Linked DNA regions of Homo sapiens: region 1 is linked to region 2. The links come from fine-mapping of genetic effects on gene expression. A gene starts in region 2. The other region holds a variant in brackets. All regions are shown on one strand. Distances are between the middles of the regions.

Region 1 (5,385 bases), 31 kb after region 2:
GTGAAAAATGAGAGGGTAGGGAGGAAATGCAGGAAAATGTATGCTATGCTTTAGCAGTAAAAGAAAAAGTCTCAGCCAGTAGCCTGAAGGCATAACAGAGCTGGAAACGATGTGTATAGGATTGGAGAGACCTAGACTAGAAGGAGCCAGTGAGAAAATAGAGACGATGTAGGAGACAGCTGGAGACGACCGTACCCTCCGAACCAGCTGCACCTGAGGAGGAGTCTTGTAAGCTGTTCTGTGGGACCGAGGATAGGACCTTTGCCTTTGGGGGAGGTGCCCCCTTCCCCTGGCCCTGCAGCTCTGGTTCCTACCTGTATCCCAAAACGTACTGAATCAAAATGTTCAGTTTACTCATCTGTCTCCTCCTGTGAGGAGATGCACTCCTCACCTCCTTTGATGGTGCACTCCTAAGGGCGGGAATCATGCCTTCTTGATCTCGACACTCCAGTATTTAGTTCAGGGTCTGGCACAGTCAATAGGGATAGTGAAACCTAACTACATAGGCCCACATAACCATGTGTTACATTGGCTGGAGTTCCCAGTAATTATACAGCCCCTTACCAATCCTCCCACCTCTCTCCCCACCTCGCAGATACCTGATATTGAGGTGACAGCTGCAAGAAGTCTGGGTGTAGTTCATTTACCTCCCCACCCCCATAATTGGGGAGAACAGGCCAGAATGTGTGGGAGCCTCACCTCGTGAATTGTATGAGGCACTAACTGAAAATAAAGCCAAGAGGCTGCAATCCTTTTCCTTCACAGCTTTCCTTACAGAGTCTCTCCCTGTCTTTCTACTTCTCTCTCTACTCTTCTCATTCCAGCTCATCTGTTTTGTTTTGTTTTCCGACTCTCCACTTCCTGTGTCCTATTTCCACTTTTGGAAGCCTGTTTTTAGACACAAGCCTTTCATTTGCCTTTACTCAAAGGTTTTCTGAAGACTCACTATCTCTAAGAAAATAACCTTGAACCATAATCTCACAATTGAGGTTGAGCCAACGTTTGTCACCACTCCCCATCTTACATGGGTCCAGTTCATACAGGACCTCAATACATAAGAGCTTCTGTAAAACAGTCAATCCTGGGGCCCTCAGTGTGGAGTGATAGGCTTTCGAGGAAAGTGTCAGAAATCACCAGAAGTCAAAGCTGTGTACCCAATTGTCCTGATTTTCCTCAATAAGTCAATAGCTTGCAAAGCTTTCCAATGAGAAACAAAGAAACTTTCTTCCCCCCACCCCTCCCCACCCCTGCTCATGCTTAAAAAATAGTTATTTTTCTTTTTCTGGAAAATCTTACTAGTAATCTCTTTAGGTTGCATCCCCTACTATTCCATCTGAACACACTGGCTTTCCACATGTTGCAGGATTGGGACAGCCTGGCAGTGACCCAGGAACACAAAGGGGCAAGTAAAGTGGGGTGCAATTTCATTACTGACCACTCTTCTCTAGGGGCCACTGCACACTTACCCTCCTCTGTGCTGCAGTTTGCAGAGCCTGAGGTCCAAGCAAAAGAAGCATTGTCTCACAGCTGTAAAGCATGAATTGTGTTTGTGGATTGCATTGCCCTGCTTCTTGCTCGTGCTTGTTCTTGTTTTCCTGGCACAAGTGCCTTTGCTCCTAGAATGGCCGCTTATCTCGGCTGACTGCTATTTGCTAACAATGGGCTCACTGGGTTGTTTTGAAAAGTCACATGAAGTTTATAATTCTGTCTGATGCTACCTTGGACTTATGTGTGCTAAATAAGCCTCAAACACCAAAACTGCCTTAAAACCTAAACTAAGCTCAACGAATGACTTCTTCTCAGGTATGCAGGCACCGGAAGGAACCCATACACCCTGCCCAGCTAATTCTACACCTCTTGTCTGTGTTGCTCTTCCACAGTACTGCTAGTTAGACCTTGCACTCTTCTCCATCTTGAGGCATTTGGTTCCCTCTACTTGCCCAGTGGCGCTCAGAATTTCTTGTGGAGCAGCTCAGGTGGTGAGGGAGGGAGGCACGGACACTGCCCCCCATGTCTCTGCAGGACGGTGGGGAACTGAGGGGTCCCTGACCAGCTGCCTCTCACGGCTTGATGTGTCACCTGATGGCTTCTCCCCTGGCTCGCACTGTGGGCCCACACTGTTTGCCAATCTGCCTTTCTTCCTGCCGGTGCTTTTGCTGGGGGAGAACCACAACCATCTCCAGTGCTGTTTTACAGCCTCCCACCACTCCACAGAGCCTCTGAAGAGCATACCTGAAGCCTTGATTCTGTCCACCTGATTCCCCTGAAGCTCACCAAAAAGG[G/A]AGCTGCTTGTTTATCCTGCTGTCAGCCATTTCCCATCAACGTCTGGCCCAGCGAGCTGTGTTGGGGCCAGCACTGCTTTAGTACCAATAGTCTGGCCCTCTTCCAGGTACTCATTGCTAGCGAATTCATCTTGCTCTTGAATGCGAAGTATGAGTCAGAGGTAATGCTGATGAAACCTCCGGCAGGTCAGGACAACAAGGGCAGACCCAAGCCACGGGGGGTGAGGTGGGGGGAGAGTGGGCCAGAACTCTGCTCTGCAGAGCTGTGGTTTGTCCTGAAGTCTGGTGCTGTGTTAGTGCAAACAACATCAAATGCAATTCAATTACAACTGTGTACTCATCACTGGGCCGGGCTGTCAGAGGCACAGAAGTATACGTTAGTTTCTGTAGGAGTTATGGCCAGCAGCCCAGCTTCTTAACTGGATTTAGTTTGAAAATAAATGCCTCACTGGACAGTGACACTTCTCAACTCTTTCAGGGAAGAAAATTTTTGCTTCTGGTAGGCTGATGTGTGACTTTAATAATCTTATCATTAGTCCTGAGTCGGGGGCTTGTCATTCAAAGTTGTCTTTCATCTTTTGTGTATGTTGTTTTCAGACAGTGGCAGCTGAAGAATGACTGTATCAGGGACATTCAATGATGCCCATATTTTGAGAGGTTAAATTTCCTAGAAACCAGCTTCTAGTCTTTGTGTGTCCTGGCTTGTGCTCTTTAAAGAGACTGAAAAAAGCATGTTCTACAAAATCCTGTCTTGCTCCATGGTAATGAGGTCAGACAGACCTCCCCAGGAGCCTGACTGGAGCTACTATACAACTGTGGGGTGGCCTTGGAAACTTGGAGACATTTGGGGCGTGCTGAGTCACTGCTGCAGCTCAGGCCCAGGGCTCCTGTCACCACTTTGGGGAGCTGGTGGTACAATAGAGATATCACTGTGGTGGGGCCTGGAATGAGGGCCTGTCATGGGACAGGGCACTGTAAAGAGAACAGTAAGTAGTTTTTAGTTATTTCTTATTAGAAGGAATTTCCTAATGGAAAATGCTCCTCCATTAATAGGATTTTCTCTGTACAGAAATTTATTGCTTATGACTATTGGGGTCAATTCCCATTGGCATCTGAGAGCTGGAAAATGACAGCTGTCATCACAAGTTTTCTGAGAAAAAAGTATGTTTTTTTCCTATGTTGGTCAGAAGCCAACCAATTCATTGCCAACCAATAAAGGTACAGCCAAAGGGAAAAAGAATTATTAAGAGTTTTAATTGCCCCTGAAATTCCAGATAGAAAATTTTACATTCAGTTACACCTGATGTAGCAGAAAACTCCAAGGGACTATCTAAGTTCTTTGGCCAAACCAGATTTGGTTTATTTAACATTGTCTAGAATGGATCATTGGCTGGGACTTGTACATATGTTTGTTATATGGGGATTTTCTCAGTTAAACTCAGATGGAAACTAAGACGAAACATATATATATGTGTATTTATGTCTATTTATATTTATATGAGTCTGGTGTATTAATCATAGGGTACTAAATTATTTTCAAAGACACAAACTATGTGAGGGTGTATTTTAACTAGCATGTGAAATGCAAAAATATTTTCTGGGTATGCTGGCACTTTATACCAAAAGGATGCAAAATTTAGCGTAAGAAAATAGTAAATTAGTAAACTAAGTGAGGTGAAAAATGTTGATCAGCTACAGAAAAAGGTCAGCAGTTCAAACTGTGGAATCTGGGTTATTTCTTTTTCACTGCCCAAGATTGTTATATACTCAGAGTTTTCCCCACATTATAAAGCATTGATAACTTTTCAATTTGTTACTACCCACTGGAGTATAATGTAAATTCTTGTGTGTGTTTTAATAATTCCTTGGAAACCATCCCTTGAATTGCTATTCATAGGATAAGAAGGAATTACTTGCTATGCTCCACATGTTTTTCATTAGGACTAAGATCAAGAAAATACATACATATCTATATATGTATGTGTGTGTGTGTGTGTGTATGTATGTGCACACACACACCAAGGGCTGGAAGATTTCTGGATCAGTTCAGATTTTGATAAGAGGAGACAGAAGAAGAATAGAGAAATGTAGGATGAAGGCCGGGCATGATGGCTCACGCCTGTAATCCCAGCACTTTGGGAGGCCAAGGTGGGCAGATCACTTGAGGCAGGAGTTTGAGACCAGCCTGACCAACATGGTAAAACCCCATCAATACTAAGAATACAAAAATTAGCCAGGTGTGGTGGCATGGGCATGGTGGCATAGTCCCAGCTACTTGGGAAGCTGAGGCAGGATAGTTGTTTGAACCCAGGAGGCGGAGGCTGCAGTGAGCCAAAATCACACCGCTGCACTCCATTCTGGGTGACAGAGTCTAAAAAAAAAAAAAATATGTAGGATGATAGTGGCAGTGGTGGTGGAAGCCACACCTGATATCGCAACAGCAGACTGCTTCATGGGATGGCATGCAGAGGTAGTCTTTGATTTTAGTTTATATCTGGAAGAAGAATTTTACACACTTTCAAATAGAAGGCAGCATTCACCAATCCAGTGCTGGGGTTAGCAAAAAGAGATCTGATCCTTTGTCTTTTCCGTCTAAGACTATAAGTTGATTCATTCGTTCTTTCAACAAATATTTATTGAGTACCCATTATGCCATAATAGTCTTAGAAATAGCCTGAGCATGGTGGCTCACATTTGTAATCCCAACACTTTAGGAGACCAGGCAGGAGGATGGCTTCAGCCCAGGAGTTTGAGGCCAGACCAGGCAACATGGCAGTGCACACCTGTAGTCCCAACTACTCAGGAAGCAGAGGCAGGAAGACTGCTTGAGCCCAGGACTTCAAGGCAGAGGTGAGCTATGATTGTACCACTGCATTCCAGCCTGGGCAACAGAACAAGACCCTGTCTGAAAAAAAAAAGCTGGAAATACTATTTTATAAGTTGTAATATGTAACAGATTAGTCTTAATTGTTGAATTAACAAGGGAATCTAAAGTCAAGTGTAGCTTAGAGCTCTCCCTGAGGCATACCATTTAAGCTGACTGTACAGAAATTAAAGTGGACATGCATTTTGCTATCTGGGCAGGTTGCTACTAATCAAATTA
Region 2 (5,385 bases):
GGATGCTTAACTTAATTATATCTGCAAAACCCCCTTTTCCCAAATAATGTCACATTCACAGATTCTGAGTTTGGAACATAGATATATCTTTTGGAGGGTTCACCATTCAACCTACTGCCGATACCTCTGAAATTCTCACAAAGTCTGAAATCATCCATCATTATCTCAAAATTGAACTTCAAAAAGTTTTCTTCAGTTATTCAGGATTACACGTTTCGTAAGTGACAGAGCTGATTTAAATGCGGGATTGTCTGGTTTCAAAGATGTTGTTCTTTCTACTGTATGATACTAAAAACGACAACAATAATCAATGATCTTAGCTGGCATGTCCTGGATGCCTATGGATCAGGCACTATGCTGGTATTAAAAGTATTATTTCTAAAGTTTCTAATAATCCTACAGTAACGTCTTCTTATTCACAATTTATAGATGAGGAAACAGAGAGGCTCAGATGAGTTAAAAAGGCTCAAGGTCATACATATAATAAGCAGGAATTTGAAATCAAAGGGAAACCAAGTCAGATGACTTTAGAAAAATCTTCAAAGCACTGAGGAAACTGACAGATAGTAGGTTAGCAGCATTACTTTGGGCAGATGAAGAATTGGAAATGTCTCTTCGAAGGGCATTAAAAATTCCTGAAACATTTGGGATCAATTTAACCCTACCTGGTGCAGTGTGTTATGGGGCGATTTCCACACTGTAAGGGAAGCAGAGATTTGGGGCATTTGCATTTTTTTCTTTTTCCAGCCCTCAAGCCATTCTCTGTTGTCAGATCCAGTCCATGCCTTGACTTTGCCCATTTATAGAGGACTGTTTTGATGCTACAGAAAGCACGATCACTCTACTTTGAAAAGCATTTAAGCATTTTCAGAGCTCAGTCTCATTTCATTTTGCTCTTAGAACAGTCCCTGAGGTTGGTAGGGTGAGTATCATTATCCTCATTTACAGTCCAGGAGCCTGAGTTTCGAAGTGAGTTGTTACTATTTGCTTCACACAGAGGCAGAAGCAACTTGAAGCCTGACTATTTGAATGCAATTCTAATTCTTTTTCCAGAGCACCAAGCCTGTTTTAGATTAAGAAAAAAATTCCAAGAAAAAAAGGAAAAAATTGGCTACCATTAGCTTTAGGTAGGTAACACACACACATATTCTCTCTCTCTGTCTCTCTCTCTCTCCTGCTCTTTCTTTCTGTCTCTCTCTCTCTCTCTCTCACACACACACACACACACACACACACACACACACACAAAGTGATAAAAAGGTCTCCTTTCTCTTTTCAGTCTTGAGAATAAATGACTGCATTTCCCCACTGGTACTCAGAAGTGATTTGCAATTGAGAATTCTTTTTTAAGGGCAGAGGGCTCTTTTGTATGACCTTATTTTCCTTGTAGTTCCAAACAAGTGGGCTAAGCATGCTCTATTATGTCCAGACTGGTGTTTATAGTCTCATCTTCAGATGATAGATGTTACTTTATAATGCTAAACCTGATATTACACAATTCTCAACCCCTCTTCCAAAGACTGGGCTGCGTATGCCAAAACTTTATGATGACAAATCATAGAATTGGAAGGAAAGAAATGTGATACTCAAACTCTACTAACTCAGATAATATACAGAAATATCTGTAAGCCAGTGGTACTCAGTCTTCATTGTTGAGAGGGAGGCGATTTTCTAAATAATGTTACAGAGAAAAGAATTTAACCCAAGAGCATGATAGCCCACCAAAAGAATTCTTCTCTGACTGAAGTATGAAGGGTCCTTCTTTTCTCTTGAATCATTATCTCAACACAAATCTTCTGTGCCTCCTTAGACACTGTGGCCACTGTCCACTTCTAGGACCTTCAACTACTCAACCACCATACCTGCCCAACACAGTTCAACTGGCTGGGACTAATCAGGGACTTACCTTAGAAGTCCCCTTAACTCTCCACCCCTCAACCACACACACACACACACACACACACACACACACACACACTGCCAAGCCACCTAGTACTCACCTAGAGGTTCTGGCTCTTCCCCTCATTTCCAGGCTTGGATGAAACAGGAACACTATACATACATCAGGTTTGGGGTTTGGGGTCCCATGTAGTTGGAGCAGTCATATGATATAAACTTGGAAATGTGAAGGAGTTAATTCCTAGTGGGACAAGTTTTGACCAATGAAAAACAGGCAATGGGAGGTAGGTGGGAAGATAAACTTCTCCTTTATTCTTCCCAGAGAATGCTAGAGGCATGGTCCCTCCCTGCATCCACTGCAAGATGTCCCACATGCCAAGGGAACAGACCTGCTGAGCCTCCCATGCCTCATCAGCCAATGGCTCATCCCGAAGCAGAAGCCAGTTGTGCAAGGCATGACTGTGCATTGTTTCCTATACTCACTTCCCTTTTTTCCTTTTTCTGCAGCTTCCCTGGCCTGGGCTTGTGCTTCCCAAATAAAATGTCAGTACTTTAATCCTTGCTTCAGGCTTTTTTTTTTTTTTCCGCTAGAAAACTAAATGAGAGCACGCCTGATGGGTTGGTGTCCTCACTTCCAGTCACCGCCCCCTTTCCAATGGAATCCGACACTGAAGCATAAGTTGAATGTGGCATTTCCCTTCAGCGGGCTCCCACTGTCTGTAAAATAGAGTCCATACTCTATCATCTGGTGTTAATAGCCCTCTAGATTTGGTCTCAAAGTAATTTTCTGATTTTAGTTCAGTGATTTTTTAAATTCATATACCATGTTCTCTAACTAAACTGAACTACTTGAACCTTTTTTTATTACCCCATGTTTTCTGACCTCCATGCCCTTAATTATGCTCTTTCCTCAATCTGAAATGTCTGCACTTACATCTCCTCTCTACATTTTAAATTCTGTCCATCAAGAGCAAGCTCAAATGTCATCTTCTCAGATTAATTACCAATTCCTTCCTCTCTGCTGCCAGCCCACAAAATTTAATAATCTATTTTTTTGGAACCCCCAAATCATCTTGTCTGTGCTTCTCTTGTGGTACTTCTTACTTTTTACCCTATGTTATAGTATTTTGCTGTATTTCTTCTCCCCAGTTAGACCATAAGCTCCTTGCAGGTACATCTGACTGATTCATCTTTGTTTCCCAGAGGCCTGGCATGGTAACTTGCACATAATTGGTGTTTAAGAAAATTTTATGAAACAAATAAACAGTGGTCAGGCACGGTACCTCATGTCTGTAATCTCAGCACTTTGGGAGGCTAAGGCAGGCAGATCATTTGAGTCCATGAGTTCGAGACCAGCCTGGGCAACATGGAGAAACTCTGTCTTTACACAAAATACAACAATTAGCCAGGCATGGTGGCGCATGCCTGTAGTCCCTGGTGCTTGGGAAGTTGAGGCAGGAGGATCATTTGAGCCCAGGCTGCAGAGGTTGCAGTGAGCCCAGATCGCACCATTGTACACCAGCCTGAGCGACAGAGTGAGACCCTATCTCAAAAGGAAAAAAGAAATAAACAGTGTGCTTTTATATAAAAGCCCAGGATTGTGGTTAAAAACTAATTAAATTAAATTAAATTAAGTATTTCTTATCTTAAACCCTAGATCCTTAGTTTTTCAGGGATATACAGGAAAAAAAAATGACCACAAGGATGCTTCTATTTGTAAGTTGAAAGGTCAGGAGATATTAATAGTTTGAATGCTGTGGCTTTCTGCCTGGGGCCATCAAACAGAACATGCTGTGCATTTTGCTGACCTTGGACAGTTGGCTAAGATGCAGTACTGAATGATCTAACTTCTTAAGAAGTGACTAATCTACAAGACTTCTGAATCATTGTTCCTTCCTGAAAATGGAGGAAAAGTTTGATAAAGAAAAATTCCAGTCTGAGAGGATTGTTACAGTTTTTTTACAACATTGTAAAGCCTAACAAACAACATAGCAAAAAAAAAAGTATATTCTATTTAAATTTATATTATTTATAGTCATTCTATATTAATCACTTCTAAGATAAATGAAATCTTCATGGAAACAGCAGGCAAAAACATTGGCTGATTATTTCTCTCGTATGAAATGCTAAACTATGAAATTCAAATATATTTGGAAAATTCAATCATATATTTATTTCTTAATAACAACTAATGAACTTATAGAGAAACTCATGTAAAAATTCAATAGCATTTGAAAGGTAAATAAACAGCACTAATGAGCTTTATTATAATACTTTCCCACTTATGATGTATGTTTGTGACTAACATCTGTTGGATAGTATTTGAGATTAGGAAAACTTATTTTATTAAAAAACAGGAAAATTTTACTTAATAAGTTAACATGGATGGGAAATCTATTTGTAAGAAGTTCCATTTGTGAAAAGGTATAAATATGTGGTCACACATAGTTATATTTTGTTGATAGAAATAGATTTTATTAGATCAATAGAATCAGGCAACAATGACGTGGTCAGCAAGACATTCTGAGAAGTAGCCATGATGAAGAGAAAGAAGTCATCAAGTTTTTCATCCTTACAACCACAAAAGAGAGAAGAATGGGGTTCAGTTGGGACAACAACAGAGGTCATATAGAAATGGCTGGGTTGGGGATCAAAGGACACGGTCAGCCTATGAACTCAGGAATTCCTTGGGTAGATCTCTATCTGTGGTTTGTCCTGAGGGCACCATCATGGCCAATATAAGTAAACCAGGTGTTTGTGGATCCATGTTGTCTCACCCGTCCTGTGTGTAAGTATCACTCACTGGCATGGAATACAGGAGGGCTATTCTTTACAGGGCTTTCGTGGGTTGGTTTCCAATGGGAATCACTGTGATAGTCACTACCCAGTGGTTCTCCTTGCTCCTTATTTCTGCTAAAAGGGGATGTGTTCTCTCAGAGAAGTCAGCAACTGACTAAACCAAGTGACCACAGTCTGGGGTAGGCTCACAAAGGCCCAGTTCTGATGAATGCCCCCATAAATAAAAGGGTTACACTTTTTGCTGGCATAATTCCAAGAACTTGTGCTTTATGGCTTCCTCTTAAACTAGTCAAAAGAAGCTGTTCCATGCTTTAATACCTATGTACTAAGCTGGTTTCCCAGCCACTGTTTTGCTTTTGTTTTTTCCCAGAAAACTCGGAGGCCCCAGAGTATATGTAACAGATTCAGTGCATCCTTGGAAGACCTTTTCTACCTTCCCGATTGTGACTTTTTTTCATAGCTTCTCTGCAGTGCTTACCATACAACCAAATTAGTTCACTGAATTGAGTATGCTCTGTGTGAGATGTGAGCAAAACAAAAGCTGCTGGGAACACAGTAAGTACAAAATAAGATGTGAAATCCTTCCACCCTTACAAACAAACAAGACCCAAAACTAGGATCTTGGGTTTGATATTTTGTGGCTCTTTTAAAATTCCAAAATATTCCTTTTGCGTTAAATAGGGACAG

Direction of the effects. Alleles are on the strand shown, and positions count from the first base shown. SD is a standard deviation of normalised expression in the study named.
With allele G in place of A in region 1, the expression in adrenal gland of the gene that starts at base 2,319 in region 2 is lower (moderate effect, 0.42 SD a copy in GTEx).

What was found. PIP is the estimated chance that this variant, and not a neighbour inherited with it, causes the effect.
Region 1: its variant is the best candidate, but not a certain one, in a credible set for the expression of LINC03140 in adrenal gland (GTEx, PIP 0.79).

The regions. Positions count from the first base shown.
Region 1 is chr4:128,599,081-128,604,465 of GRCh38, forward strand. No RefSeq gene overlaps it. Among named protein-coding and RNA genes, the nearest start is that of LINC03140, 31 kb to the left of the region's middle. The variant G/A (reference allele first, on the strand shown) is at 2,283.
Region 2 is chr4:128,568,225-128,573,609 of GRCh38, forward strand. LINC03140 (long intergenic non-protein coding RNA 3140) reads right to left here and starts at 2,319. Exons shown (of 2, transcript XR_007058268.1): 1 at 2,001-2,319; 2 at 1-1,063.